2 separate regions of the Homo sapiens genome follow, and region 2 is linked to region 1. The links come from fine-mapping of genetic effects on gene expression. A gene starts in region 1. The other region holds a variant in brackets. All regions are shown on one strand. Distances are between the middles of the regions.

The links. PIP is the estimated chance that this variant, and not a neighbour inherited with it, causes the effect.
Region 2: its variant is the best candidate, but not a certain one, in a credible set for the expression of HOMER3 in pancreas (GTEx, PIP 0.72).

The regions. Positions count from the first base shown.
Region 1 is chr19:18,932,054-18,947,216 of GRCh38, forward strand. HOMER3 (homer scaffold protein 3) reads right to left here and starts at 9,164. Exons shown (of 10, transcript NM_004838.4): 1 at 8,998-9,164; 2 at 6,916-6,996; 3 at 6,675-6,831; 4 at 6,300-6,431; 5 at 2,250-2,357; 6 at 871-992; 7 at 1-79. The coding sequence starts at 6,929. HOMER3-AS1 (HOMER3 antisense RNA 1) reads left to right here and starts at 8,201. Exons shown (of 3, transcript NR_134913.1): 1 at 8,201-8,571; 2 at 14,028-14,175; 3 at 14,273-14,778. RefSeq lists enhancers at 1-448, 1,135-1,753 and a silencer at 9,128-9,327.
Region 2 is chr19:19,754,185-19,769,347 of GRCh38, forward strand. LINC00663 (long intergenic non-protein coding RNA 663) reads right to left here. Exons shown (of 3, transcript NR_026956.1): 2 at 8,354-8,462; 3 at 2,187-4,362. Among named protein-coding and RNA genes, the nearest start is that of LINC00663, 15 kb to the right of the region's middle. The variant G/A (reference allele first, on the strand shown) is at 8,817.

The DNA.
Region 1 (15,163 bases):
TCGCAGGGCGCCTGCCAGCTTGTTGTTGCTGTCCTGCAGTGCGAAAAACTCGGCCTCCCACTGTACCTCGCCCACGGAGCTGCAGAGACACGAGGGTCGGCAGTGGGTGACACGGGGCTGGGGGGCGGAGTCGGGCGATGCTGGGCTAGGGGGCGGGGCCAGGGGTGGGATAGCTCTGGGCTTAGGTCAGGGCGAAGGCTGGCGAGGGTGCGGAGTCGTGCGCGAAGTTGGACTAGGGGGCGGGGCAGGGGTGGAGTGGCACTGGGCTGGGGGCGGAGTCAGCGGCAATGCTCGGTTAGGGGGCGGGGCCAGGGTGGGTGGCGCTGGGCTGAGGCGGAGTCACGGGCGATGCTGGGCTAGGGGGCGGGGCCAGAGGAGGGGTGGCTTTGGGCTAGGGCACGGAGTCAGGGCCACGCAGGGCTGGGGATGTGGCGACACTGATTGCTGAGCTTGGGGATGGGGCAGTCCCGCAGAAGCGGGGTCTTGTCGAGGACCGAGTCAAAGAAGGGGGCACGTGGAGTCCGCCCAGTGACACTGTGGGAATGTTGAGGGAGGGATGGGAGGTTGGGGAGAGTCAGCCGATGGGGGCGTGGTCAGGGTGGTTATCCTAAGACCAGAGAGGCATCGACGGGGCGAGGTTAGCAGCGAGAAGAGACAGGGATGGGGTCAAAACAGAGGGGCGTGGCCAACGCAGGGTAGGGGCGGGGTCGGCTCTGGATGGGGCAGCATTCAGATCCTCATCCCCTTCCCCAGGTCTTGAGTCCACAGTTAGATCCCGCCGTCCTGGCACTCCCTTGGCTTCCAAGAACCGCCTCCTCGTCCCCCACCCCTACCCCCGCCCCTGCCACGCCCCCAAGTCCCGCCCCTCACCCCTCAGACAACATCTTCTTTAGCCGCTCGCGCTCTGTGGGGCCGGGGGCATCAGCGCTCTGGCTGCGGAACAGTTTTTCCTCGCCGGGGCCGTTGGCACTGACGAGAGGGCTCGGGGGCACCTAGGCACGGGGAAAAGAATAGGTCACGACCCCACATCAGCTGGGATCAAGGCTGATGTGACTGGGGTCGTCACATCGGGGGTGCAATTGACCTATGCACCCTAAGCAGGTCCTTCACAGCACAGGATCCAAGTGTGTCCCTCCCCACCTCACCCACCCTCCATGGCTCCCTGTGGCCCCTAAGCTGGGAGTTCCATGCCCACGCCCTCGACCTTGCCTTCCTGGGCTTTCACCACCCCCAGGAGCAAGTCTGATGCAGGTTAGTCTAAACCAAGATACTTAGAACCTGTAAGGTAGGGGAGGGGTACAATCGGACACCTCCCTGCTGTTCCCTTCCCTGAGGCCGAACTTCAACATCACGTTTAGGATTTCAGCAGGAAGCCCTGCCCAGGCCGAATTCGTGTTTCGTGAGCAACCCCACTGCCTGGACCACTGGCTCTGAGGGTAGACAAGCTGGCGGGTGCCCTGCGAGAGGCCAGCGCCACCGCAGCCCAGTGCAGGCAGCAGCTGGAGGCTCATGCTTTTTTTCATCTCTCCAACCCCTGTGCACAGCCCTCGGCCTGGTACACAGCAGGTGCTCAATAAATAATGCTGAATAAATTAATGTGGGAAAACACGCAGGGACAGTTCGTTGTTCTGCCTCACACTTAGCCATTTCTTTCTTTCTTTTTTTTTTTGAGACAGAGTCACACTCTGTCACCCAGGCTGGAGTGCAGTGGCACGATCTCGGCTCACTGCAACCTCCATCTCCTGGGTTCAAGCGATTCTCCTGCCTCAGCCTCCCGAGTAGCTGGGACTACAGGCGCATGCCACCACGCCTGGCTAATTTTTGTATTTTTTAGCAGAGGTGGAGTATCACCATGTTGGCCAGGCTGGTCTCGAACTCTTGGCCTCAAGTCATCCTCCCTCCTCAGCCTCCCAAATTGCTGGGATTACAGGCGTGAGCCACCGCACCCGGCCACACTTAGCCATTTCAATTTCTAGTCTTCCATCCTGCCATCTGAGCTGGTTTTGCTACTGGGACCTACTGGGTGTACCCCACCGGCCCCAGGCAAGGTCCAGACCCTCTATGACACACTCCACACCACTCCTCTGTGGTCCCTGCTGTGGGTCTAACCTTAGGTCATCTGGAAGCATTGGGTCTTGACGACCAGCAGAGTGCCCCGGTCTCCCAATATCAAGGTCCCCCAATATCAGTTGAGCGCCTGGCTGACTCACAGGTGCCCAGGCAGGCATAGGGGAGTAGGGAGTGCTGACCTGGTGGGAGGCGAGCCCCAGGGCTGGACTGGTGAGCTCCCCGCCATCCTGAGATTTCTCCCTGGCCAGCCTGGCTGCTTCCTTCACTTCCTGGAACTTCTCGGCAAACTAAGGGAGTGGGGAGGAAAAGACAGTAAAACCCCAGCCCATCCTCCCAAACAGGTCACCATCACTCAGTGACAGCCCCGCCACTTTCGAACCGTACCCATCCCCTTATCACACACCTTGGAAGAAGGAGAGAAACTTTGAAAAATGATGTACCATGGTGGGTGGGCAGGTGGCATCAGATCACAGAGGTGGCATTTAAATACATTGGGCCACATTGAGAAAGGGAAAGGAATTCCCATGTCCTCTTTTTAGGAAAGGGTCTCACTTTGTCACCCAGGCTGCAGTACAGTGGCATGATCTCGGCTCACTGCAGCCTTGACCTCCCTGGCTCAAGTGACCCTTCCACCTTACCCCTCCACCAAGGAGCTGGGACTACAGGTGTGTGCCATCATGCCCGGCTAATTTTTTCTAGAGACGGGGTCTAGCCATGTTCCCCAGAATGGCCCTTTTCCTGTTTTTTGTTTTTTTTTTTTTTGAGATGGAGTCTTGCTCTGTTGCCCAGGCTGGAGTGCAGTGACATGATCTTGGCTCACGGCAGCCTCTGCTTCAGCCTCATGAGTAGCTGGGATTACAGGCATGCACCAGCATGCCTGGCTAATTTTCATATTTTTAGTAGAGATGTGGTTTTACCATGTTGGCCAGGCTGATCTTAAATTCCCGGCTTGAAGTGATCCGCCTGCCTCAGCCTCCCAAAGTGGTGGGATTACAGGCACAGCACCCAGCCTTTTTTTTTTTTTTTTTTGGGGGGGGACAGAATCTCGCTTTGTCACCCTGGCTGGAGTGCAGTGGCACCATCTCAGCTCACTGCAACCTCTGCCTCCCAGGTTCAAGCGAGTCTTCTGCCTCAACCTCCCGAGTAGCTAGGACTACAGGCCCGTGCCACCACGCCCAGCTAATTTTTGTATTTAGTACAGATGGGGTTTCACCATATTGGCCATGCTGGTCTCGAACTCCTGACCCCGTGATCCACCCACCTCGGCCTCCCAAAGTGTGAGAATGACAGGTATGAGCCAACATGTGGGGTCCCTTTTAATCTTTATCAGGGCTATTTCAACAAAGAGAGCCTCAGGTGGGTGCTAATCTGTCTTTAACACCTGTTATTATTCCTTTATAACAAAGAGATTAGGTCTCAGGCTCTGAGAGACATCAGAAGTCAATGAGAAAGTAATCATCTCATTCTTGTTTTTGTTGTATTAAATGTTTACATGTTTACATTTACCACCTATTTATGACAAAGCAATACCAGTTTTCCAGTTAGGATAGGATATGTTTCCCCCCACCACCCCGGTTTTAAAATAAATTTCCTTAGTTTAAAAATAATTTTTTAGGCCGGGTGCGGTGGCTCACACCTGTAATCCCAGCACTTTGGGAGACCAAGGCGGGCGGATCATTTGAGGTCAGGAGTTCGAAACCAGCCTGGCCAACATGGTGAAACCCCATCTCTACTAAAAACACAAAAATTAGCCAGGCATGGTGGTGGGCGCCTGTAATCCTAGTACTTGGGAGGCTGAGGCAGGAGAATTGCTTGAGCCCAGGAGGTGGAGGTTGCAGTGAGCTGAGATTGTGCCATTGCACTCCAGCCTGGGTGACAGAGCAAAACTCTGTCTCAAAATAAATAGATAAGGCCATGTGTGGTGGCTCACGCTTGTAATCCCAGCACTTTGGGAGGCCGAGGCAGGTGGATCATGAGGTCAGGAGTTCAAGAGCAGGCTGACCAACATGGTGAAACCCCATGTCTACTAAAAATACAAAATCAGCCAGGCATGGTGGCACATGACTGTAATCCCAGCTACTTGGGAGGCTGAGGAAGGAGAATTGCTTGAACCGGGGAGGCGGAAGTTGCGGTGAGCCGAGATCGCACCATTGCACTCCAGCCTGGGGGACAAGAGTGAAACTCTGTCTCAAAAAAATAAATAAATAAATAAATAAATAAATGATTTTTTAGGCTGGGTGCAGTGGCTCACACCTGTAATCCCATCACTTTGGGAGCCTGAGGCAGGCGGATTACCTGAAGTCAGGAGTTTGAGACCAGCCTGGCCAACATAGTGAAACCCTGTCTCTGCTAAGAATACAAAAATTAAAAAAACAAAAATTTTGTAAAAATACAAAAATTAGCCAGGTGTGGTGTGTCTGTAATCCCAACTACTTGGGAAGCTGAGGCAGGAGAATTGCTTGAACCTGGAGAGAAGAGGTTGCAGTGAGCCGAGATCGGGCCACTGCACTCCAGCCTGGCAACAGAGCTAGACTCTGTCTCCAAAAAAAAAAAAAAGACCTAAATTAGAAAGGTAAATTGTTGGGGCCGGGCGCGGTGGCTCACACCTGTAATCCCAGCACTTTGGGAGGCCAAGGTGGGTGGATCACGAGGTCAGGAGATCGAGACCATCCTGGCTAACACGGTGAAACCCCCGTCTCTATTAAAAATACAAAAAAAATTAGCAGGGCGTGGTGGCAGGCGCCTGTAGTCCCAGCTACTAGGGAGGCTGAGGCAGAAGAATCAGAAGAATGGTGTGAACCTGGGAGGCAGAGCTTGCAGTGAGCCAAGATCGCGCCACTGCACTCCAGCCTGTGCGACAGAGCGAGACTCCGTCTCAAAAAAAAAAAAAAAAGTAAATTGTCTGGGTGCAGTGGCTCAAGCCTGTAATCCCAGCACTTTAGGAGGCCAAAGTGAGAGGCTCGCTTGAGGCCAGGAGTCAAGAACAGCCTGGACAACATAGTGAGATCCTATCTCTAAAAAAAATAAGATTAAAGATATTAGCTAGGCATGGTGGCATACGCCTATAGTCTCAGCTAGTCAGGAGGCTGAGGTGGGAGGATCCCTTGTGCCCAGGAGTTTGAGGCTGCAGTGAGCCATGATTGCACTGCTTCACTCCAGCCTGGACAGCAGAGCAAGATCTTGTTAAAAAAAAAAAAAAAAAGAAGGGAGGGAGGGAGGGAAAAAAAAAGAAGAAAGGTAAATTCTAAACCTTCTAGAAGAAAACAAAGAAAGCCTGGTGTGGTAGCTCATGCCTGTAATCCCAGCACTTTGGGAGGCCGAGGCAGGTGGATCATCTGAGGTCAGGAGTTCAAGACCACCCTGGCCAACAAAATCCCATCTCCACTAAAAATACAAAAATTAGCTGGGCGAGGTGGTGGGCACCTGTAATCCCAGCTACTCCAGAGGCTGAGGCAGGAGAATCGCTTGAACCCGGGAGGTGGAGGTTGCAGTGAGCCGAGATCGTGCCACTGCACTCCAGCCTGGGGGACAGAGCAAGGCATTATCTCCAAAAAAAAAAAAAAAAAAAGAAGAAGATCTTCGTGAAAGCACTCATCATCAACAAAACCACGGATAAAGATAATAATGGAAGTATAGAGACGGCACAGGGTGCAGGGAGGTGAGGATGAAGGTATTGCTGGGGCATGTGGGAAAGTGCCCAGCCCAGCCCAGCCACCCATTTGATGTCCCAAAGAGGAGCAGGGTGTGTCCAAAATTAGAGCTACAGGCAGTAGAACTAGGACTCAAGAGCAGGTACAGTGGCTCATGCCTGTAATTGCAGCACTTTGGGAGGCCGAGGCAGGCAGATCATTTCAGGTCAGGAGTTCGAGACCAGCCTGGCCAACATGGTGAAACCCTGTCTCTAATAAAATACAAAAAATTAGCTGGGCGTGGTGGCGGACTCCTGTAGTCCCAGCTACTCAGGAGGCTGAGGCAGGAGAATCGCTTGAACCCGGGAGGCGGAGGTTGCGTGAGCCAAGATCACTGCAGCCTATCTCAAAAAAAAAACAGAAAAATGAACTAGGAATCAAACCGGGGAAGCTTAAAGGGGCTTCAGTCTCAACTCATCCTACAATCCCATCCTGCAGATGGGAAGATAGGGGACCTGCCCAAGATCCCAGAGTGAGCCCAGGAGAAGACTTGGGCCCAGTCTCATCGGTTCCCTCCACTCTCCCCCTCACCCGGCCCACCTGTGTCAGATGCTGTTCAGAGGCAAAGCCCAGGCCGTAGACTGTGTTGGCGCGACTGTCGGCCCACTGCCCGAACTTCTGGGAAGTTTTGGTGAAGGTCATGTTGGGAGTGACAGTGCTGTTGATGATGGCCTAGGGTCGGGGAACAAAGTTCAAGGTAGATGGGACAGATACTAACAAACATGAAACCCCCCAGGTATTACCTTGTATTAGGGTCTTGAAGGTCTTTACTCTGAACCCTTTCAGGAGATAGAGACTAGGGCCTGGGAAGGCTTAGGGTTTCCTGTCCCTTGGGCACACAGCAAGCCAGCCACCAGACCCAAGGTTGTCACCAGGACTCCTGGTGCCTCTGCCCCACCCAGACCCCACCCTGACCTTGGCGCCTCCGATGCTGATGATGCGGTACACATTGCGGGTGGCATCGTAGAAATAGGAGACAGTGAGTGCGTGCTTGCCCGCTGGGATCCAGTTTCGCTTGGTGGCTGGGTCAATTTGGAACACGTGCGCCCGTGTGCTGAAGATTGGCTGCTCCCTGCGTGGGGAGAGGGTGTTTGGTGGGGGCCAGGCACCCCCACTTAGAAAGCTCAGGGCCAGGCTGGGGGAGGTGGGAGCTCACCTGGCTGTGGACATTGGTCAGGCTGGGATGGGCAGGCTCTAGGGGGCAGCCAGAGAGGTGGCAGGAGCACTGGTTTGGCCCCTAGGGAGAGAGGAGGGACTATGAGTGTCCCTCAGGCCAGGCTGAGGGAGGCCAAGCAGGTTCCATCTCAGGACCCATCACCAGGTGTGCCCGTCATGGAACTTTCAATCAAAAAGGCAGGAGAGGCCCAAAGTACACCTGGTGCTTTGGGAGGCTGAGTCAGGAGGATCCTTTGAGCCCAGGAGTTCGAGACCATCCTGAGCAACATGGCGAGACCCCATCTCTACCAAAAATTTAAACAATTAGCTGGGTGTGGTGGCATGTGCCTGCCGTCCCAGCTACTGGGGAGGCTGAGGTGGGAGGATCACTTGAGCCCAGGAGGTCAAGGCTGCAGTGCAGTGAGCTATGGTCAGGCCACTGCACTCCAGCCTGGACAAGAGAGTGAGACCCTGTCTCAAAAAAGAAAGAAATTATAAAAAGAAACAAAAAGGTAAGATAATTATTATAGATAACTCAGAGCAAGCAGACCCCATCTTTCTTTGTCTAGGGGAAGCCCCCACAACACCCTGTACAGGAGATGGCCCTCTGAGAGGAGCCTGGTGGCCGCTGACATCCAGATGTAAATTTCTCATTGTCCTGGTTATTGCACCCCCGTGAAGTCCCCTCCATCCCAGGCTGAGCTGTGGAGGCCAAATCTCTGCTGAGTTCTTTCCACCACATTCACCCATGACTGGCCAGAGCGGGGCTCTCCACCAAAAAATGGGGCGTTGAGAGGTGTGTAGTACCAGGAGACCAGTTCCCCACTACACCCTGCAGAGGGACCCCACCCCCAGCAGCTCCCACCCTAGGGCAGAAGCACACCTTGAAGTCCAGAGTCCAAATCCCCAGGGAGCCCCCAGCCAAGTTAAAAAGACAAGATGTAGACAAACAGCCAATCCCAATGCCCACCATGAGGGCAGAGCAGAATCCACACTGGGAGACCAGGGCTCCCCAACCTCCCCATTGGGCCATTCAGCAACCCCGAATCTGCAGGGGACCAAGGAGGAGTTTGGAGGAGGGGGAAGACAGGTGGGGGAGGGGAGGCCCTGGCCCAGCGGCCTCTGTGGTCAAAGGGGGGATGCCCCCCCTATCCTGTCCTGGGCAGCTGCTGTCCTGGTCACAGGGTCTGAAACCGGAGCCCCTGAGTGGGGGTGGGGCGGCAGCTCTGGCCTGGACTGGGGGCGGGTCCTGCGCCGGGTGGGAGTTGGGGAACACAGGGGTCCCCGGAACCCAGGCCCTTCCGGTCCGGCAGCTCCTGCTGCGACTTGCAGCGTTTGGGGAAAGTTACTCACCAACTAGTCATGCGCCTCGGATGCCGCCGGCCACGGGGCTCCCGGAGGGGGGTCCGACACCGCCCGGTGCCCGGGATCCCCAATCTGGCCGGTGGATGAGGCCCCATCCCATGCACCCGAGTGCGGGGGACGGGGGGGTTAATATTAATTCAGGATCCCATCCCCACCCGAGGCAGGACACCCAGTGCACGCCCCAACTCCGGGACGCGGGCTCTGACCCTGGAACTTCCGAGATTCCCGCGACGCCCCCTGTCTCTGGGTCCAGAACTTCGGGGGACACCTCTTCTGCCTCCTCCAACCCCAGGTCGGTAACTCCGGGGACTCCCTTCGTGACTCCTCCTCTAACTGGGTCCGGGACCCCGGTCCTCCGCGTTGTCCTAGACTCCTAAACTTCGAGGACCCCCTGCCACCCCTCCAGTCCCTGGGTCCGGGACGTCCGGACCCCTCCCACCCCAGTACCCCACCCCAGGTCCGCAGCTTTGGGGACCTCTTCGCAGCCTCCTCCAACGCCGGGTCCAGAACTTTGGGAACCTCCCACGCAGTCCCCTCTCAGACCCTGAATCCAGAACTTCGGGACCCCCGCGCTCCCTCCAGCCCTGGAACTTGGGGACCCCTCGCGCCGCTCCCAGTCCCGGGTCCGAAACTTCTGGGGAACCCCCACGCCCTCCCCTTGGCCCTGGGACTTCGAGGCCCCCGCGCTCCCAGCGCAGGCTCGGCAGGCCGGGCTCACCCTGCCAGGTCGGCGCCCCGCGAGTGTCCAGGCGCGAGTCGGGTGCGGCCCCCGCGGCGCTGACTCCGCGCTGCCGGGCGCCCCGCTCGCTCCCTGGCTCCCGGGCCCGCGCCCTCCGCGCCGCCCTCCACGCCGCCCGTGCCTTTGTCTGCGCCGCCGCCGCCCGCGCCGCCTCCGGTCCCATCGCGGCCGGTCCCGACGCGGCCGCCGCCCGCCCCGCCTCCCCGGGCCGCCAAGGCCGCCCCGCTGCGCCCCCTGCCGGCTTTTTGCACTGGGAGAGGGTATGGGGGAGGGGATAAGGGGGAGGGGCGGGGGCCGGGACTGGGGAAGGGACGGAGGATTGAGGGAGGGGGTTAGGGGCGGTGGAGGGGGAGTGGGGGGGGGGGTTGCGTGGGGTCGGGTTGGGAGCAGAGGGTGGGGACAGAGAGACAGACGGAGAGGGACATCTGGGATGAGAAAGAGACCCAGAAACAGAGACACGGGGGAGACAGGCGGAGAGATAGGAAGCAGATGGAGAGAGTTGCACGGACAGCGATGTGACCTCACCCTCCTGTCACCTTCTCAGGAGACAGCTGCCTCTGTCCCCACTACCTGAGGTCATAACTTTGGGCCTGTGAGGGAGGTCAGGTCCCTCCCGGGCTGACATGGGTGGCCCAGTGAGGTTGGGGAGGGGGCAGTGGGTCTCAGGGTCTGCATACAGTAAGTGCTCAATGGGTGTTGCCAGGAAACGGAAGAGATCAACTTCGGGAGGGAACGGGAAGCAAGACAAAGAGAGAGAAGCCTCTGTTCCCCTGCCCGTCCCATCCCTAAGCAGGGACGTCTGTCCACCTCTGTCCCTCCCAAGACGATGGTAAAAATGCCCACAATGGTTGGATTAAGGTTATCTTTGCTGTTGTTTGAGGGTTCCAAAATCCAAAGGCTGAGGAAATGTCTCCAACGCATGGTTGCATCCCCTCAGCCTCCACTGGCCTGCGTTTGTCACCTCTGGTCACAGGGAGCACCCCCTTCCCACACTTGCCAGGAGAGCATCCTTCCGGAGTTGAACTAGGATCCACCTCCCCAGCCCCAAGCCCATGTGTCCCACTTGTCAATCCTGGTGCCGCCCCCTCTCTGGCACCGTCTCCAAAATCACACGGTGCGGCGCCGTTGGTTCGTTTGTGGACAGAGGTCCTGCAGCTCCCTGGAACCAAGGCCTGTGGCGCCCTAAAGCTCTGATCTTACATTTGAGTTTTTCTTTTCTTTTCTTTTCTTTTTTTTGAGACAAAGTCTCACTCTGTTGCCCAGGCTGGAGTGCAGTGGCACAATCTCGGCTTACTGCAGCCTCTGCCTCCCAGATTCAAGCAATTCTCCTGCCTCAGCCTCCCGAGTAGTTGGGACTACAGGTGCATGCCACCACACCTGGCTGATTTTTGTATTTTTAGTAGAGATGGGGTTTCACCATGTTGGCCAGTCTGGTCTCGAACTCCTGACCTCAAGTGATCTGCCCCCCTCGGCTTCCCAAAGTCCTGGGATTACAGACGTGAGCCACCACACCTGGCCGACACTTGAGTGTTTTGACAACTTCAGAGAGGCTTTTGCTTTTCATCTCCAAGACCTCTGCTCCTGTCTCCTTTCCCTGTTCCTTTATTTCTGTTTCCTTCTAAGAAGAATAGTATATCTGAGCTGGCGGTTACATTACATTCAAATTACCTTTAGGTGAATTCCAGGTCAGGTTGTTTTTGGAGATTGACTCCTGCGCCAAGATCTGAGTCTTCCCCCATCCAGGCCTTTGCCCAAACTGTTCCTTCCACCTGGAATGCCCTCGCTGCAGGCATCTCTTCTGCCTTGTCCTTCCAGGCTCAGCGCCACCACCCTGTCTCCTCCTCCAGGAAGCCTCTCTGACTACCCTGGCCTTGGAAGGGATCTTGCCCTCCCCTGTCCCAATCCCTGTGACTCTTTTTTTTTTCTTTTTTAAAGTTTATTTTTAGAGACGAGGTCTCACTATGTTGCCCAGGCTGGTCTCAAACTCCTAAGCTCAAGTGATCCTCCCACCTCGGCCTCCCAAAGTGCTGGGATGACAGGTGTGAGCCCAGACCCTTTCTGTGACTCTTATGTTACCTGTTTATTACATGACCAGGTCTGGGTGCTCCTCTAGGGCTGGCCCATCCATCCTGAAGCCCCAGTCTGACCCAGCACAAGAGCGACTGTTCATCCCACAGGGGAAACTGAGGCACAGACTCGGTTTCCCTGGCTGCTTCTAACTTCACGAGGCATCTGCACAAGGGAAGGATTTGGCTCTGTTCTCAGGCCGGAAGCCACGAAATGCTTGAACATTGTGGGGAGCAAAGAAAATACCGTCTGTTCTGTGCAAAAAATGACTTTTCCTTATTACCAACAAAATAATGGAAAAAATAAAAAAGTATCTGGGAAAGGTGCTGGCATGGCCAAGGCTTCTGGAAGCTGCTTAGAGTTTGCCAAGTGCACAAGTGGGGCCCTGTGGCTATTTTACAGGGGCGGCTGGGCGAGGGGCCCAGGCAGACTTTGCCCTTTGTGTGGGCAGAAAGCAACAGTGAAAGAGACAGTGAAGGGTTGAGTTGCTTTCCTGAACACCCTCTCCGGTCTCTGGGAGGGGCTGGGACAGGGCTGGCCTTGAGCAGCCCCAACCTGAAGCTGGACTAGCCAAGTCTACACTGAGGCACTGGCTTCCTCAGTGTGGGCCTCAGTTTTCTCACCTGGAAAATGGGCCGATGCTTGCAGGGCTTCTAGTAGAGGGAGAAACATGAAGGATTTAGTCAATATCAGCAGCTGTCCTCTGGGGTGCCTGCCATTAGGTTCGTGGGCAAAGGCCCTGCCACTCTTTGCTGCAGCTGGGAAAACAGAGTCTGTGTCTCAGTTTCCCTGCTGGGATGAATAGTCACTCTTATGCTGGGTCAGACTGAGGCTTCAGGATGGATGGGCCAGCCCTAGAGGAGCACCTAGACCTGGTCATATAATAAACAGGTAACATAAGAGTCACAGAAAGGGGCTGGGCTCATGCCTGTCATCCCAGCACTTTGAGAGGCCGAGGCTGGAGGATCGCTTGAGCTCAGGAGTTCGAGACCAGCCTGGGCAACATAGTGAGACCTCGTCTCTAACGAGGGCTGCCCTGAGCTGCTGCCCCCACCCCAGTCTGGGCCCTCTTCTTCCTAGGTCTGGAGGCCTCTCTTCTAAAGAACTGGGCTGGGTGCAGTGGCTCATGCCTGTAATCCTAGCACTTTGAGAGGCTGAGGCAGGCAGATCACCTGAGGTCAGGAGTTTGGGACCAGCCTGGTCAAAACATGGTGAAACCCCGTCTCTACTGAAAATACAAAAATTAGCCGGACGTGATGGTGCACACCTGTAATCCCAGCTACTCGGGAGGCTGAGGCAGGAGAATTGCTTGAACTCAGGAGGCAGAGGTTGCAGTGAACTGAGATCAGGTGACTGTACTCCAGCCTGGGTGACAGAAGGAGACTCTGTCTCAAAAACAAAAACAAAAAAGGGTGGGGGGGAGGGAGGAAGGAAGGAAGGAACAGACTTGAGATGTCCTTGCAGGGCAGGCAGAGGCCACCCCAAGGTGTCTGACTAGGAAAGCAACTTTCCTTTGGGGCTGAAAAATGGTGTGGGAGAATGAGCTTCCCACCTTAAAGGGGAAACCAAGCGGGAGCCTGAACAGCTCATTCAGCACTAAGAAAACTGCATTTGCAGAATGGCTTTTATGGCTCAGGCTCTGGTCTCTGCCTAGTTAGATCTGACCTAGCCTTTGGAGTGAGGCTAAACAGTCTCTCCTCTCCAGAGACTTTCTGTGCCACCAGAGCAGGGACAGTCCACCTGCTCTTCCCGAAAGCTGGGTGCCCACCTCCCAGTGAAGGTCTTGGTGACTACTTCAGGTCTGTTTATTGTTTATGGCATGATTTGGTTACTGTTCACCTCTTACATGGATTTGTCCCTGCACCTAGAACAAGCCTGACCTGTGACAGCTTTCTTTTTTTTTGGAGATGGAGTCTCACTCTGTCGCCAGGCTGGAGTGCAGTGGCACAATCTCGGCTCACTGCAACCTTCAATTCCTGGGTTCAAGCTATTCTTCTGCCTCAGCCTCCCGAGTAGCTGGGATTACAGGCACTCGCCACCACACCCAGCTAATTTTTGTATTTTTTTTTTTAGTAGAGACAGGATTTCACCATGTTGGCCAGGATGGTCTCAATCTCCTGACTTCGTGATCCGCCCGCCTTGGCCTCCCAAAGTGCTGGGATTACAGACGTGAGCCACCGCCCTTGGCCCCTGTGACAGCTTTCTATGAGCACTTTCAGGAGTAGGAGATCCCCAGGTTCCAGCTTTCGACTTGGCTTTCGGAATCACGTGAGCCAGGGAGTGAATCCCAGCCCTGCTGCTTACCAGCAGTGCCACCCTGAAGAAGTCACTTTCCCTTCTTTGTGCCTCAGGTTCCCCATCCATAAAATGGGCATACGAATGGTGTTCACTTCTGAGGTTTACTGTAGGGATCCAATGAGTTCTTTCTTTTTCTTTTCTTTTTTTCTTTTGAGACAGAATCTTGCTCTGTCACCCAGGCTGGAGTGCAGTGGCGCAATCTCGGCTTGCTGCAATCTCTGCCTTCCAGGTTCAAGCAATTCTTCTGCCTCGGCCTCCCTAGTAGCTGGGATTACAGGCGCACGCCACCACAGCCGGCTAAATTTTTGTGTTTTTAGTAGAGACAGGGGTTTCACCATGTTGGCCAGGCTGGTCTCCAACTCCTGGACTCAAGTGATCCACCCGCCTTGGCCTCCCAAACTATTGGGATTACAGATGTGAGCCACCACGCCCACCCTTTTTCTTTCTTTTCTTTTCTTTTCTTTTTTTTTTTTTTTTGAGACAGGGCCTCACTCTGTTGCCCAGGCTGTAGTGCAGTGGCTCAATCATGGCTCACTGCAGCCTCAACTTTCTGGGTTCAAGCAATCCTTCCACCTCAGACTCCTGAGTGGCTGAGACTACAGGTGCACACCACTACGCCTGGCTAATTTTTGTATTTTTTGTAGAGATGGGGTGTCACTATGTTGCCCAGGCTGGTCTCCAACTCCTGGACTCAAGAGATCTGCCTGCCTCAGCCTCTCAAAGGGCTGGGATAACAGATGTAAGCCACTGCATCTGGCCTCCAATGAGTTGTTATGTGAAGAGAACGTGATTGTAGGTGCTTAATAAATGCTTGCTGTTATAAACATCATATTTATTTTTGGTATGTGGTTTTGATCCTGAACCAACCTCTTACTCTTTTCTTTTTCAGAAGTTAGAGGACTCCAACCAGGCCTGAACTCTCAAGGACAGAAATGGGTCCAACCTGGCATGACATCCTCTAAATCTTTAGCTCCTGGCCTCTCAGGTGCCCCCTCCAGCTACCTCCCTCTTCCTTCTCTTCATTCCCCAAGCCATAGCTGGTTGGGCCAACCTCCAGACATTAGCCTCTTTGCAAACTCCTATTCATCCCTCAAAGCCTCACCTTCAATGCTCTCCTCCCCAAGAAGCTCTCTCCTCTACCTCTAGACCTTTTCCAGCCCTCTTCCCTCTTTCTGGCCCAGCCCTGACTCCTGGGAGTGTCTGTGTGCAGCTTTGACTCCCCCAGCCTGAGTGTCTCTCAAGGGCTGAGACCAGGGCCCATGTTTCCCTAGAGTTTGTCATCTTCCAGCATAGTGTGGACGCATGGGGGTCAGGCAAAGGGGGAGTTTGATGACTCAGTACTATTGGTGATTTTGCATCACTTGAAGGAGACCCTGCCTTAAATTCAGAACTTGACTTCTGCCCACGGCTAAAGTTAATTCATTCAACAACCCCCCATGAAGCAATGGAGCCAGGCTCCCTCAGGCCCAGGCAAGAAAGGGTCGTGGAGTTGGGGTCGCCAGCACTGGTTTATGGATTTGAGGACCTAGGACCAGAGTGAGTTGGGGATGGGAGGAGGCAGTGCTTGAGGCCCCTCTGAGCAGCAAACCTGGACCCGAGGTTCAGTTCCCGCAGACCTAATTACCCTAATTTGCCACATGCACTAATTACCTCCTGGGTGCCAGGTGGCTGGGCGGGGCTGCCCCAATTTCCGGAGGTAGGTCGGGGCCCGATTATTTTTGGCTGTGGCGTCCTTGAAGCCTCCGCCATCAGCAGCGCTTGAAGGGCAGAAAGTGGGGCG
Region 2 (15,163 bases), 820 kb after region 1:
CCTCGAGAGATGAGGCCCGACTTACCAAGAACCCACTGACCAGAGAGACCTCCACTGACTGGGCCCAACTGACAAGGGCCCCACCGACAGGGACCAACTAACAGGGTTCCAACTGACCATGTTTTTACTGACCAGACTTTACTGACCAGGCCCCACAGCTCAGTATCCAGTGACCAGACCCTCACTGACTAGGTCTCACTGTAAGGCCTCAAGTGACCAGGCCTCACTATCCAGGACACACTCATGAGGCTTCTACTGCCAGGCCCCCACTGATTGGGCCCAACTGAGGAGGCCCTCACTGACCAGGTCCTTAACTGATGAGATTCCAACTGACCAGGTCCTTAGTGACCAGACCTTTACTGACCAGCCCCTACTAACCAGGACCCCACTGAACAGGTCCTCACTGACAAGATCCCAGTTGATCATGTCCCCAGTGTCCAGGTTTCACTGACTAGGCCCCACCAACCTGGTCCCCTGACAAGCCTCCAACTGACCAGGTCTCCACTGACTGGGACCCAACTTACGAGGCCCATTAGCCAGGCCTCACTGACCAGGACTCCACTGACTGGGCCCCATCTGATGAGGTTCTGATTGACCAGGTCCTTAATGACCAGGCCTTTACTGACCAGGCCCCACTACCCATGAGCCCAGTGACCAGACCCTCACTGACCAGGTTCCACGGCCAGGCCTCCAGTGACCAGGCCTCACTATCCAGAACCCACGGATGAGGCTTTTGCTGCCAGGCTGACTGCGCCCAACTGACAAGATTCCAACTGACCACTTCCTTCACTGATGAGGTCCCAACTGACCATGTCCTTAACTGACAAGGTTCCACCTGCCCAGGTCCCAACTGACCAGGTCCTTAACTGATGAAGTTCTGACTGGCCAGGTCTTTAATAACCAGACCTTTACTGACCCATTAACCGGGACCCCAATGACCCAGAACTTTACTGACCAGGCCCCACTAGCCAGGACCCCAATGATCAGGCCCCACTGACCAGGCCTCAATTGATGAGGCCTCAACTTACCAGGACCCCAGACCACCACTGACTAGACCCCACTAGCCAGGACCCCCTGATGAGGCCTCCACTTCTAGGCCGCCACTGACTGGGCTATACTCACAAAACCCCCAATCAGACCTCCAGTGACCAGTCCTCACTGTCCAGGACCCACGGATGAGGCTTCCACTGCCAGGCCTCCACTGACTGGGCCCAACTGACAAGGCCCCCTCTGTCAACGTCTCCACTGACTGGGCCTTAAATGACGAGGTTCTGACTGACCAGGTCCTTACTGAACAGACCTTTACTGACCAGGCCCCACTAATGAGGACTCCAAAGACCAGGCCCCCACAGACAAGACCACAGTTGATTATGCTCCTGGTGGCCACGTTTCGCTGACTAGGCCCCACTGACAAGTCCCTCACTCCCTAGGTCCCCATTGACCAGGCCCCAAATGATGAGGCCTCAGCTTACTAGGACCCCACTGACCAGACCTCCACTGAGTAGGCCCCACTAGCCAGGCCCCACTGATAGGCCCCCCAATTCCAGACCCCACTGACCAGGTCCCTCCACTGACTGATGAGGTTCCCACTGACCAGGTCCTTAATGATCAGACCTTTACTGGCTAGGCCCCACTACCCAGGACCCCAGTAGCCAGGTCCCCACTGACCAGGTCCCTACTGAACAGACCTCCACTGACTGGGCCCCCATTGCCAGATTTCCACTGACCGGGCCTCATTGACCAGGTTTCCACTGACCAGGACCCCAATAACCAGGTCACACTCACCAGGCCCCCACTGACCACATTTCAGCTGACCAGGCCCATGCTGACCAGGACACACTGGTGTAGCCCCAAGTGACCAGGCCCTCTGACCAGTCCTCTCTGACCAGGTCCCCGCAGACCGGGTCCTCACTGACCAGGCACCTGCTCACCAGGCTTCCTCTGACTAGGTCTCCAATGATTGTGTCCCCATTGACCAGGCCCCCACTGACCAGGTGCTATTGACCAGGCTGCTGCTGACCAGGTCAGCACTGACCAGACCCCCACTCACAAGGACCTATTCGCCAGGCCCTGCTGACCAGGTCCCACATGACTCCACTGAATAGGTTCCACTGATGTGGCCCCAATAACTCAGCTATATTAGTGTGTTCTTGCATTGCCATAAAAAAACACCTGAGACTGGGAAATTTATAAAGAAAAGAGGTTTAATTGGCTCATGGTTCTAAAGGCTGTACAGGAAGCATGATGCTGGTATCTATTCGGCTTCTGGAGAGGCCTTAGGAAACTTTCAATGATGGTGGAAGGTGAAAGCGTAGCAGGCACGTCTTTGCTTTTTTTTTTTTTTTTTTTTGAGATGGAGTCTCGCTCTTTCGCCCAGGCGGAAGTGCAGTGGCGCGATCTTGGCTCACCGCAAGCTCCGCCTCCCAGGTTCACGCCATTCTCCTGCCTCAGCCTCCCGAGTAGCTGGGACTACAGGCGCCCGCCACCGTGCCTGGCTAATTTTTTGTATTTTTAGTAGAGACGGGGTTTCACCGTGTTAGCCACGATGGTCTCGATCTCCTGACCTCGTGATCCGCCCACCTCAGCCTCCCAAAGTGCTGGGATTACAGGCGTGAGCCACCGCGCCCGGCCACAGGCATGTCTTACGTGGCTGGAGCAGGAGGAAGTGTGGGGGGAGGTGCCACACACTTTTAAACAACCAGATGTCATGCAAACTCTCTCACAAGAACAGCGCTAAGGGGATAGTGCTAAACCATTAATGAGAAACCGCCCCATGATCCAATCACTTTCCACCAGGTCCTACCTCCAACACTGGGGATTCCAATTCAACATGAGATTTGGGCGGGGACACAGATTCAAACCATATTGTTCCACCTCTGGTCTCTCCCAAATCTCATGTCCTTCTCATATTTCAAAATACTACCGGCTGCGTGCAGTGGTTCACGCCTGTAATCCCAGCACTTTGGGTGGCCGAGGCAGGCAGATCAGAAGGTCAGGAGATCGAGACCATCCTGGCCAACAAGGTGAAACCTCATCTCTACAAAAATACAAAAAATTAGCCAGGCATGGTGATGGAGGCCTGTAGTCCCAGCTACTGGGGAGGCTGAGGCAGGGGAATCATCTGAACCCAGGAGGCAGAGATTGCAGTGAGCTGCGATCGCACCACTGCACTCCAGCCTGGTGACAGAGGGAGACTCTGTCTCAAAAAACAAACAAACAAACAAACAAACAAACAAACAAACAAACTACCATGCCTTCTCAACAGTCCTGCAAATATTTAACTCATTCCAGCATTAACTCAAAAGTCCACAGTCCAAAGTCTTATCTGAGACAAGGCTAGTCCCTTCTGCCTATGACCCTGTAAAATAAGAAACAAGTTTGTTACTTCCAAGATACAATGGGGGTATAGGCATTGGATCAACATTCCCATTCTAAAAGGAAGAAATTGGCCAAAAGAAAGGGGCTACAAGCCTACACAAGTCCAAAACCAAGCAGAGCAGTCATTAAATCTTAAAGCTCCAAAATAACTTCCTTTGACCTCCTATCCCACATCAAGGGCGTGCTGGTACAAGGGGTGGGCTCCCAAAGCCTTGGGCAGCACCACACTTGTGGCTTTCCAGGGTTTAGCACCTGTAGATGCTCTCAAGGGCTGGCCTTGAGTACTTGTAGCTTTTTCAGGCTGAGAGTGCAAGCTGCCAGTGGATCTACCATTATGATGTCAGGAGGACAGTGGTTCTCTTCTCATAGCTCCACTAGGAAGTCCTCCAGTGGGACTCTGTGTGGGGGCTCCAACCCCACATTTCCCCTCCACACTGCCCTGGTAGAGATTCTCCATGAGGGTTCCACTCGTGCAGCAGGCTTCTGCGTGGACATCCAGACTTTTCCATGAATCTTCCTAAATCTAGGTGAAGGTTTCCAAGCTTCAACTCTTGCACTTTGCACTGCAATGGTAGTGCAGGTCCACTGAACCATCAAAGACCAGGTACATGCCTCTGCCTGGTGTTCTCAACTCATCCACCAGTGTGGAGCTGTCATCCCACTTTTCATTACGGTCATCATCGCTGCCCTGGCTGGCCTGGCTGCCACCAGAATTGCTGAGGTGATGACTGCAGGTTCCCCAGTCCCCGGCTCTGGAAAGCCTGCACTGGCAGCTGGAAGGCCCCTGGTGGTGGCACTTGTTGTGGCTGCAGCAGCAGCTAGAGGGCTTTGGGAGGCAGCTTCGAGGAGGTGGGTACCATGGTGAGAAGGGCCTTGAAGCCTCTGGGTGACACATTGCCCTAGCAGGCTGGGGCACCAGGGCTGCTGTCACTCACCAGGCCTGGCCTAGGGGCAATGGAGTGAGGCCTTGTCTCTAAGAAGCATCTGCATGACAGAAAACATTTCTATACTATACGTCTGATAATGCATTAATATCACAAATGTATAAAAACTCAAACAGTCCAACAGCAAGAAAACAAATACTATAAAATATTAGCAAAGGACTTGATATAGACATTTCTCAAAGAAGACATGCATATGAGCAAAAAGTACATGAACAAAAGCCCAAGTTCAATAATCATCAGAGAAATGCAAATTAAAACCAGAATGAGATGTCACCTCACATCTGTTAGAATAGCTATTTCAAAAAGTTTGAAGTGCACTGAGTCTGGATCTTTAGTATCTTTATTTCACTACTTCTTCTAATGTAAGGATTTGGTTTGTTAGTCTTTGATGTGTCTTTTTTTTTGAGATGGAGTCTCACTCTGTTGCCCAGGCTGGAGTGCAGTGGCGCGATCTTGGCTCACTGCAACCTCCAACTCCTGGGTTCAAGCGATTCTCCTGCCTCAACCTCCCGAGTAGCTAGGACTACAGACACGCACCACCACGCCCAGCTAACTTTTGTATTTTTACTAGAGATGGGGTTTCACCATGCTGGCCAGGATGGTCTGAATCTCTTGACCTCATGATCTGCCCACCTTGGCCTCCCAAAGTGTTGGGATTACAGGTGTGAGCCACCACGCCCGGCCTCAATGTGTCTTTTTATGGTTTTCAGTAAAGTTTTATGGTTTCACATAGGCCTGGGAATGTCTTCTAAGTCGATTTCATGGCACGTTTGCTAATGTGGATGGAGGCTGACTCTTTGTTATTGTTACTGTATGTTTATTATTAGTATGAAAGATTCAAGATTTATTATATATACAATGTGCATTTGCTCAATTTCCTGAATGTTGTTAAACAGTTTTTGTTCTGAAAGTTGAAATCGATTACCCTGCTTTTCTATTTGTACTCATGGCCTCTGTGGATAACTACAGTTCAAATTCTTTGACTTACATTCTTTCCTGTTTCCTCCTCTTCTCTCTTCTGGTCCAGACTCAGGCATCCCTCACAGTGATAAATGGGAGAGGCCTTGCCGGCCCTTGTCTTAGACTTTTCTTTATTGAAACACTTCTGATGTTTGCTGTTGATTATGATGTTTGCACAAATATCTTTGCTTAATAAGAATTTTATTTTTGCCTTTTCCCTTCCTTCCCTCCCTTCCTTCCTTCCTTCCTTCCTTCCTTCCTTCCTTCCTTCCTTCCTTCCTTTCAAAGCATGATCTCTGATGTTTCTTAGGCTGGAGTGCAGTAGCTAGTCACAGATGGAATCATAGCTCACTGCAGCCTCAAACTCCTGGGCTCAAGCAATTCTCTCACCTCAGCCTCCTGAGTAGCTGGAACTGCAGTCATGTGCCACCATTCCCAGCCAGAAGTTTCTATTATCCTATTTGGTATTCTTAATCATCACATATTTTATTCAAGGATATACTAAAGTGATTACATATTTTTTCTACTGTAGTCTTTTGATCAAATAAAGAACCTAAATAATTTATTTTTTGAGACAGAGTCTTGCTCTGTCACCCAGGCCGCAGTGCAGTGGTGCCATCACAGCTCACTGCAACCTCTGCCTCCTGGGTTCAAGCAATTATCCTGCCTTAGCCTCCTGAGTAGCTGGGACTACAGGCGTGTGCCACCACACCTTGCTAATTTTTGTCTTTTTAGTAGAGACGGGGTTTCACCATGTTGGTCAGGTTGGTCTCAAACTCCCGACCTCAGGTGATCTGCCCACCTTGGCCTCCCAAAGCATTGGGATTATAGGCGTGAGCCACTGTGCCCAGCCTTGATTTTATTTTTAATAGTAAAATGTACTTGAATAGTTTTTGGCGTAATCTGGTAGTAGAAATACACAAGATATCACCATTAGATACTGCTAATCAAACACTTAAAAGGTGCAAGTATCCAGGTGATTTTGTATACAATCTGGGTCTTTTTGTCAGACTAACGAGTATAATGAGATTTGATATTTGCTTCTGATGTTGCTGGACAAACTGGGTAAAGAAAAGGATTAAGTCAGGGATTCCAAGTTTTTAATACAAGTACTGCATTAATATCCTAAAAATTTATATGTAGCCCTGAAGAAGATACTTAACTCCTGCAGCTTCAGGGCTCAAAATGCTGAAAAGAAATCATAGCATCTCATCCCATAACTGGCTGAATTACAACAAAAATTAAATTCCCAGGCTTGCAGGATGCCTACTTTTAAAGTGGGGGTATTCATTCAGAAAACATTGGATATTAAAAAGTTAAAATGAGGGCCAGGTGCGGTGGCTCACACCTGTAATCCCAGCATTTTGGGAGGCTGAGGTGGGAGGATCACCTGAGGTTGGGAGTTCGAGACCAGCCTGGCCAACATGGAGAAACCCCTTCTCTACTAAAAATACAAAATTAGCTGGGTGTAGTGGTGCATGTCTGTAATCCCAGCTACTCAGGAGGCTGAGGCAGGAGAATCACTTGAAGCCGGGAGGTGGAGGTTTCGGTGAGCCGAGATCGCACCATTGCACTCCAGCCCCTGGGCAACAAGAGTGAAACTCTGTCTCAAAAAAAAAAAAAAAAGAAAAAAGAAAAGAAAGAATGAAATGCTGGATCTTCATTGGTTTGCTATAAAGTGATTCAAAAGCTTTGAAAGATTTGAATGATAAAGTGTATTTTTCCTTTAAAACATACTCAACTGAGGAAGATCCAGGAGATACACCATTCATCATAACTGTGAGACATACATTTGTGAGAGGAGTCCCAGTATCTCCAAAGAGCTTGATCACCACACTTCTCTGTAGGACAGAACTTACAATGAAGATTGTTGCCACCGAAATGAAAAATCTAAATGCATTGGTTATAACCGGATCTCGGGACTGCAGGATTTAAGTGGCAGCACTCAACTGCAGCTGTGAAAAAAATGGTGGGAATGGTTATTTAACAGACTGCAAAGTCAAAGCAAGCAATAAGAATAGTTTGACTCATGGGCTTCCTAGAATTAGAATAGAGGGCGCAGTGGCTCATGCCTGTAATCCCAGCACTTTGGGAGGCCGAGGCGGGAGGATCACCTGAGTTCAGGAGTTTGAGACCAGCCTGACCAACATTGAGAAACCCCATCTCTACTAAAAATACAAAATTAGCTGGGTGTGGTGGCGCATGCCTGTAATCCCAGCTACTCAGGAGGCTGAGGCAGGAGAATCGCTTGAACCCGGAAGGCAGAGGTTGCGGTGAGCTGAGATTGCACTGAGCTGAGATCATACCATTGCACTCCAGCCTGGGCAATAAGAGCGAATCTCTGTCTCAAAAAAAAAAAAAAAAAAAGAATTAGAATAGACAGGAAGACTACTAAGTTTTTACTTGATCTATATAAGTAGAAAAGTTCAAGTCAAACAAAGCCAAACCTGAATTATGAAACAAAAAACAAAACCAAAGATTTATGGCTTCTCAATTTTTTTTTTTTTTGAGATGGAGTGTCACTCTGTCACCCAGGCTGGAGTGCAGTGGCGCAACCTCGGCTCAATGCAACCTCCACCTCCTGGGTTCAAACACTTCTCCTGCCTTGGCCTCCCGAGTAGCTGGGATTACAGGTGCGTGCCACCACGCTGGCTACTTTTTGTATTTTTTTTAGTAGAGATGGGGTTTCACCATGTTGGTCAGTCTGGTCTTGAACTCCTGACCTTGTGATCCACCTGCCTCGGCCTCCCAAAGTGCTGGGATTACAGGTGTGAGCCACCACACCTGGCTTGGCTTCTCAATTAATTTCCAGTCTCGAATTAGTTTATAGACCCAGAACTCCTTGAATCAATGAGATGCTGGGTCCCTATGAGGAAGAAATCCAGTATACTATTACAAATATATACTGTTAATTTGTCCCCCTCTTTTCCCCAAAGAAAACTATGGCCTTTTACCGGAGAACCTTTGCATTGGGAAAAAAGAAATAATCAGACCTTTGAGGAATTACTGAATACAGTTTCTGAACTGATACTAATTCCAGGAGAACTGAAATGACATTGCAGGGCATTTACCAGAGTAGGAGCTTATGGAGGTCAGGCGATCAATGGAGTTTTGAATCAATTCTAATTCCCAGTTGGCCTGGTGGGTTTCTCAAACCACCCTTCGGTTATCTTCCCCGTTCTGGAATACATAATTAGATTAGACATACTCAGCAACTGGTAGAATGCCAAACTGGTTCCCTGACCAGTGGAGCGAGAGCTATTTTGGTAAAAAAAGGTCAAGATGAAGTCATCAGAACTGCGTATTCCTAGGAAAAAGTCAACCAAAAGCAACAGCACATTCGTACAGGGATTTCAGAGACTGAGGCCACCAGGAAGGTCTTAAAAGATCCAAGGGTAGGCTGGGAGAGGTGGCACTTTGGGAGTGCTGAGTTCAGATTTGGGAGCCCGCCGAGGTGGGCGGATCATGAGGTCAGGAGTTGGAGACCAACATGGTGAAACCCCACCTCTACTAAAAATACAAAAAAAGTTAGCC[G/A]GGCGTGGTGGCATGCACCTATAATCCCAGCTACTCGGGAGGCTGAGGTAGGTGAATCGCTTGAACCCAGGAGGCAGAGGTTGCAGCGAGCTGAGATCGTGCCACTGCACTCCAGCCTGGGTGACAGAGCTAGACTTGGTCTCAAAAAAAAAAAAAAAAGGAACCATCCAAGGGTCATGGCTCTCATTTCATCCTATGTAAGTCACTGAATAAACATAAGAGATCTTGGAGAATTATACTGGATAAACGTAAGCTTAAATCATATGGAGACTCCCATTGCAGTTGTTGTACCAGATGTTGTTTTATTACTTGAGCAAATATACACATCCCTGGTACCTAGTGTACAGCTATTCATCTGCCTAATACTTTTTTTTCTCTATCATTGTTAATAAATACCACCAGAAGCAGTTCGCTTTCAGGTGGCAAAGACAGAAACACACCGTCACTGTCCTACCTCACACACTAGTAATTGGCTCGGGCTTCTGTAACAGCATGCCGACTGAGTGACTTAATCAATGTATTTTCTTCTCACAGTTGCAGAAGGTAGAAGTTATAATCAAGATCATCAGAACTGGCATCTGGTGAGATCTCTCTCCTTGGGTTGTAAGTGACCACCTTCTCTATGTCCTTCCATGGACTTTCCTCTGTGCTTTTGTGGTAAGGGAGATCTCTAATGTCTCTTTCTCTTCTTATAATGACTTTTTTTTTTATAGAACCCTAGCCTTATAACCTCATTTAACCTTTTTTTGTTTGTTTGTTTGTTTTGTTTTGTTTTGAGACAGAGTCTCGCTCTTGTTGCCCAGGCTGGAGTGCAACGGCACAATCTCGGCTCACTGCAACCTCCACCTCCTGGGTTCAAGTGATTCTCCTGCCTCAGCCTCCCTAGTGGCTGGGATTACAGGCGCCCGCCACCACGCCTGGCTAATTTTTTTTATTTTTCATAGAGATGGGGTTTCACTATATTGGCCAGGCTGGTCTCGAACTCCTGACCTCAGGTGATCCACCCGCCTCAGCCTCCCAAAGTGCTGGGATTACAGGCGTGAGCCACCGCGCCCGGCTCTCATTTAATCTTAATTACCTCCGTAAAGGCCTATCTCCAATTACAGTCACATTGAGGGTTAGAGCTTCAACATATATATTTTAGAGGGACATAGTTCAGTCAATAATAGTGATATATCAACTCTTCAGCCTTATGTTACAGCTTAGTTTGCTGGGATCTTGGTCACCTTTTCCTTCCACAAACTATCACACTGGTTCTTTACATTGATGGTATTATGCTCATTGAATATAGTGAGCAAGAAACTCACTAGACTTATTGGTATGAGAAGCTCACTCTAGACTTACTGGTATGAAATTTATGTCAGGATGTAGGACATTAATCCAACAAAATTTCAGAAGCCTTCTATCTTTGTGAGATTTATAGGGTCCCAATGGTTTGGGACATGCCAACGTATCCCCTGGAAGCAGAGGAGTAAGTTGTTATATTTGGCTTCTACTACAACAAAAAAGAGGCACAACTCTAGTGGGCCTTTTGATTTTGAAGGTAACATATTTCTCATTTGGTAAGTTACTCTGGCCCATTTACCCTGTGACCCAAAAAGCTGCTAGCTTTTCTTTACTCAGCAGAAAAGAATATTCTACATCAGATCCAGGCTGTCGTGTCACTTGGGTCATGTCTTCCAATAGAGTCAAAGGTGCTGAAATTGTTGATGGCAGATACAGATGATCTTTGGAGCTTCTGGAAAGCTCCTGTGTTAATCACAGGAAAGATTTTGGAGGAAAATCATGCCATCCTATGTAGATAATTGCTCTTTTTCTTTTCTTTTCCCTTCTCCCCTCCCCTCCCCTTCCTTCCTTTCTTTTCTTTTTTTCTTTCTTTTTTTTTTTTGAAACAGCTTTTGGCCTGTTCCTGGGGCACAGAAAATACACTGGAAAAATTTATATTGTTAAAATGTCCATGCTGGCCAGGCATGGTGGCTCATGCTTATAACCCCAGCAGTTTGGGAGGCCAAGGCAGGTGGATTGCTTGAGCTCAGGAGTTCAAGACCAGCCTGGGCAACATGGTGAAACCTTGTCTCTACAGAAAATACAAAAATTAGCCCGGCATAGTTTTGCATGCCTGTGATTCCAGCTACTTGGAGGCTGAGGTGAGAGGATTGATTTAGCCCAGGAGGTTGAAGCTGCAGTGAGCCATGATTGTGCCACTGCACTTCAGCCTGGGTGATACAGCAAGACCCTGTCTCAAAATAAAATAATAAAATAAAATAAAATAAAATAAAAGTCCATGCTTCCCAAAGTGATATAGAAAGTAAATGCAAGCCCTATCCAAACCCCAATGGCATTTATTATTAAACTAGACAAAAATAATTACAGATTTACTTGGAACCAAAAGAGACCTTAAACAGTCAAAGCAGTATTGAGCAAGATGAACAAAGCTGACGATATTATACTCTCTGATTTCAAAACATTAGAAAGCAATGCCATCAAAACAAGATAGTACTGGCATAAAAACAGACATAAAGAACAATGGAACAGAATGGAGAGTCCCAGAATAAATCTAATATATGCATACAATCAACTGATCTTCAACAAGGGTGCCAAAAATACACAACAGAGAAATGAGAGTCTTTTAAGTAAATAGTGCTGGAAAAATTGGATCTCTATATGCAAAAGGATAAATGTGGACTCTTACTTCATACCATATTAAAAATTAACTTAAAATGGATTAAATATTTAAACATAAGACCTGAAAACATAAAATGGCTAGAAAAAAAATATGGAAAAATTTTCAGAACTTTGGACATTGAGATGCTTTTTTTTAAATTAGACTTCAAAAGAACAGGCAACAGGCCGGGTGTGGTGGCTCACACCTATAATCCCAGCATTTTGGGAGGCTGAGGCAGGCGGATCACCTGAGGTCAGGAGTTGGAGACCAGTCTGGCCAACATGGCAAAACCCCATCTCTACTAAATCTATTTTAAAGATTATTTGGGTGTGGTGGTGCACTCCTGTAGTTCTGGCTACTCAGGAGGCTGAGGCAGAACTGCTTGAACCTGGGAGGCAGAGGTTGCAGTGAGCCAAAATTGCATCACTGCACTCTAGCCTGGGCAACAGAATGAGACCCTGTCTCAAAAAAACAAAATAGTAAGACAAAGAACAGGCAATAAAATCAGGACAGACAAGTGGGACTACCTCGAATAGAAAAACTTCTGAACAAAGGACAAATTCAACAAATGAAAAGGCAACTTAAGGAATGAGAAAAAAATAGTTGCCAATAATATATCTGATAAAGGGTTAATATCCAAAAATACAAGGAATTTCTACAACTCAATAGCAAACCCCAAATAACAAGATTAATAAATGAGTAATGACCTAAATAAACATTTCTCCAAAGAAGACATAAGAATGGCCACAGGTATATTTTAAAAAATGCTCCGTGTCATTAAATGTCAGTCAAATGCAAATTTAAGTCACAGTGAGGCATCACCTCACTCTTGTGAGGACAGGTATATTAAAAACAAACAAGCGTGCTAAAGTTATGAAGATACTGGAACTTTTGTACACAGCTGGCAGGAATTAAAATTGGCAGCAACAATGGAAAACAACATACAGTTGTCTCAAAAAGTTAAAAACAGAATTATAGGTCGGGTGTGGTGGCTCATGCCTGTAATCCCAGCACTTTGGGAGGCCGAGGTGGGAGGATCACTTGAGGTCAGGAGTTCAAAACCAGCCTGGCCAACATGGTGAAACCCTGTCTCTACTAAAAATACAAAAAAAAAGTAGCTGTGAGTGGTGGTGCGCACCTGTAATCCCAGCTACTCGGGAGGCTGAGACAGGAGAATTGCTTGAACCCGGGAGGCAGAGGTTGCAGTGAGCTGAGATCGCACCACTGCACTAAAGCCTGAGTGACAGAGTGAGACTCCGTCTCGAAAAAAAAAAAAATTACAGTTTGATTCATTAAACTCAATTCTGGGGATACATCCAAAGGGAATATAATTTGGATCTTGAAGAGCTACATAGTTCTGTGTCTATTACAGCATTATTCACAATAGCCAAGATATGGAAGCCACCTAAATGTCCATGAAGGATACATGAATGTGTCAAGTAAAGGTAGTATATACATGCAATAGAATATTAGCCTTAAAAAGGGAGTAAATCTTTTCTTTTCTTTTTTTTTTGAGATGGAGTCTCTGTCACCCAGGCTGGAGTGCAGTGGCGCGATCCTGGCTTACTGCAACCTCTGCCTCCTGGGTTCACACCATTCTCCTGCCTCAGCCTCCCGAGTAGCTGGGACTACAGGCGCCCACCACCATGCCTGGCTAATCTTTTGTATTTTTAGTAGAGACGGGGTTTCACCGTGTTAGCCAGAATGGTCTCGATCTCCCAAACTCAGCTGATCAGCCTGCCTCGGCCTCCCAAAGTGCTGGGATTACAGGCGTGAGCCACCGCGCCCGGCCAGTAAATCTTTTCATTTGTGACAACATGAATGTACCTGAAGGATACTAAGGTACACATTAAGGCACGATTGAAAGAAGCCAGACATAGAAAGACAAATACATCATGATCTCACATACATGTGAAATATGAAGTAATTATACGTGTAGAGGCAGAGAGTAGAATGGTGTTTTCCAGAAGCTGAGCTGAAAGAAAAACGGGGGTTGGGGGGATACAAAGTTTCAGTTACCCAAAATGAACAAACTGGTCTGGATAGTGGTTTTTTTTTTTTTTTTTTTTAGTAAAACCATAAAAGCTCAGGCAACGAAAACAAAAACAAATGGGGTTATATCAACCCAAAATGCTTCTGCATAGCAAAAAAAAAAAAAAAAAAAAAAAAAAAATTAACAAGGTAAAGAGAAAAGCTACAGAATGGCAGAAAGTATTTTCAAAATACCCACCCAATAAGGTATTAATAACCAGAATATACAAAGAACTCAAATGACTTAATAGCAAAAAACAAACAAAAAAAGAATCTAAATTTAAAATGGGAAAGGATCTAACCAGATACTTCTCAGCCAGGTGCAGTGGCTCACGCCTATAATCCCAACACTCTGGGAAGCTGAGGCGGGTGGATCACTGGAGCTCAGGAGGTCAAGACCAGCCTGGGCATCATTTTTTGTAGAGGTGAAATACCACCTCTACAAAAAATTCGCTGGGTATGGTGGTGCACACCTATAGTCCCAGCAACTTGGGAGTCTGGGATGGGAGGATGGCTTGAGCCTGGGGAGGTTGAGGCTGCAGTGAGCTGTGATTATGCCACTGCACTCTAGCGTTGGTGACAGAGAGACACTGTCTCAAAAAAACCCCAAAAAACAAAAAGCAAACCCAACAACAGACTCCTGTCTTCAGCCAAAAAGACCAGGAAAGACACCTTATCAAACAAAACTTTTATCCAATGTGCCTTCTATGCTGGGATAAAATGAGGGTAGATACAATAGGCTTTCTTTCCCTTTTGTGTTTTATAAATTGTATTTGAATATCAAGGAACAATTGAAACATTGTTAACTACGATAATTTCTGAATATAATGTAATACGTTGATCTAACACTAAAAAAGCTATACTCAAAAACACTACAAATAAATGAAATTTTAAAACATGTTCAAATTATCTACATGAAGAAAGTAAAAATCACACAGAGGAACAAAACAGAGAGAACAAACAGAAAACAACGTATCAGGCTAGTTTTAACAAAATTAACTTAACTGTTAAATGTTCTGAATTAACCAAGTAGATCTCCGCTGACACACAACAAAAACATGCTGGCCAAAGTGGATGAGGTGAAGTTCACAATCAACACCCAAATGAAGAAGGTGCTATGTCTGGCTGTGGCTGTCAGCCACGTGAAGATGACAGACGATGTTACACACAGACGATGTGTGTAACATTCACCTGGCTGTAAACTTCCTGATGTCACTGCTCACGGAAAACCGGCAGAATGTCCGGCCCTTATATAACAAGAGCACCACCGGCAAGCCCTAGCACCTGTATTAAGGCACATTTGAATAAATTCTACTGCCACCAGTCAAAAATAAATAAATAAAATAAAATAATCAATTAGAGACAAAGATTGAAAACATTGATTTTTTTTTTTTTTTTGAGACGGAATCTCCTCTGTCGCCCAGGCTGGAGTGCAGTGGCGAGATCTTGGCTTACTGCAAGCTCCGCCTCCCAGGTTCACGCCATTCTCCTGCCTCAGCCTCCCGAGTAGCTGGCACTACAGGTGCCCGCCACCACGCCCGGCTATTTTTTATGTATTTTTAGTAGAGACGGGGTTTCACCGTGTTAGCCAGGATGGTCTCGATCTTCTGACTTCGTGATCCGCACGCCTCAGCCTCCCAAAGTGCTGGGA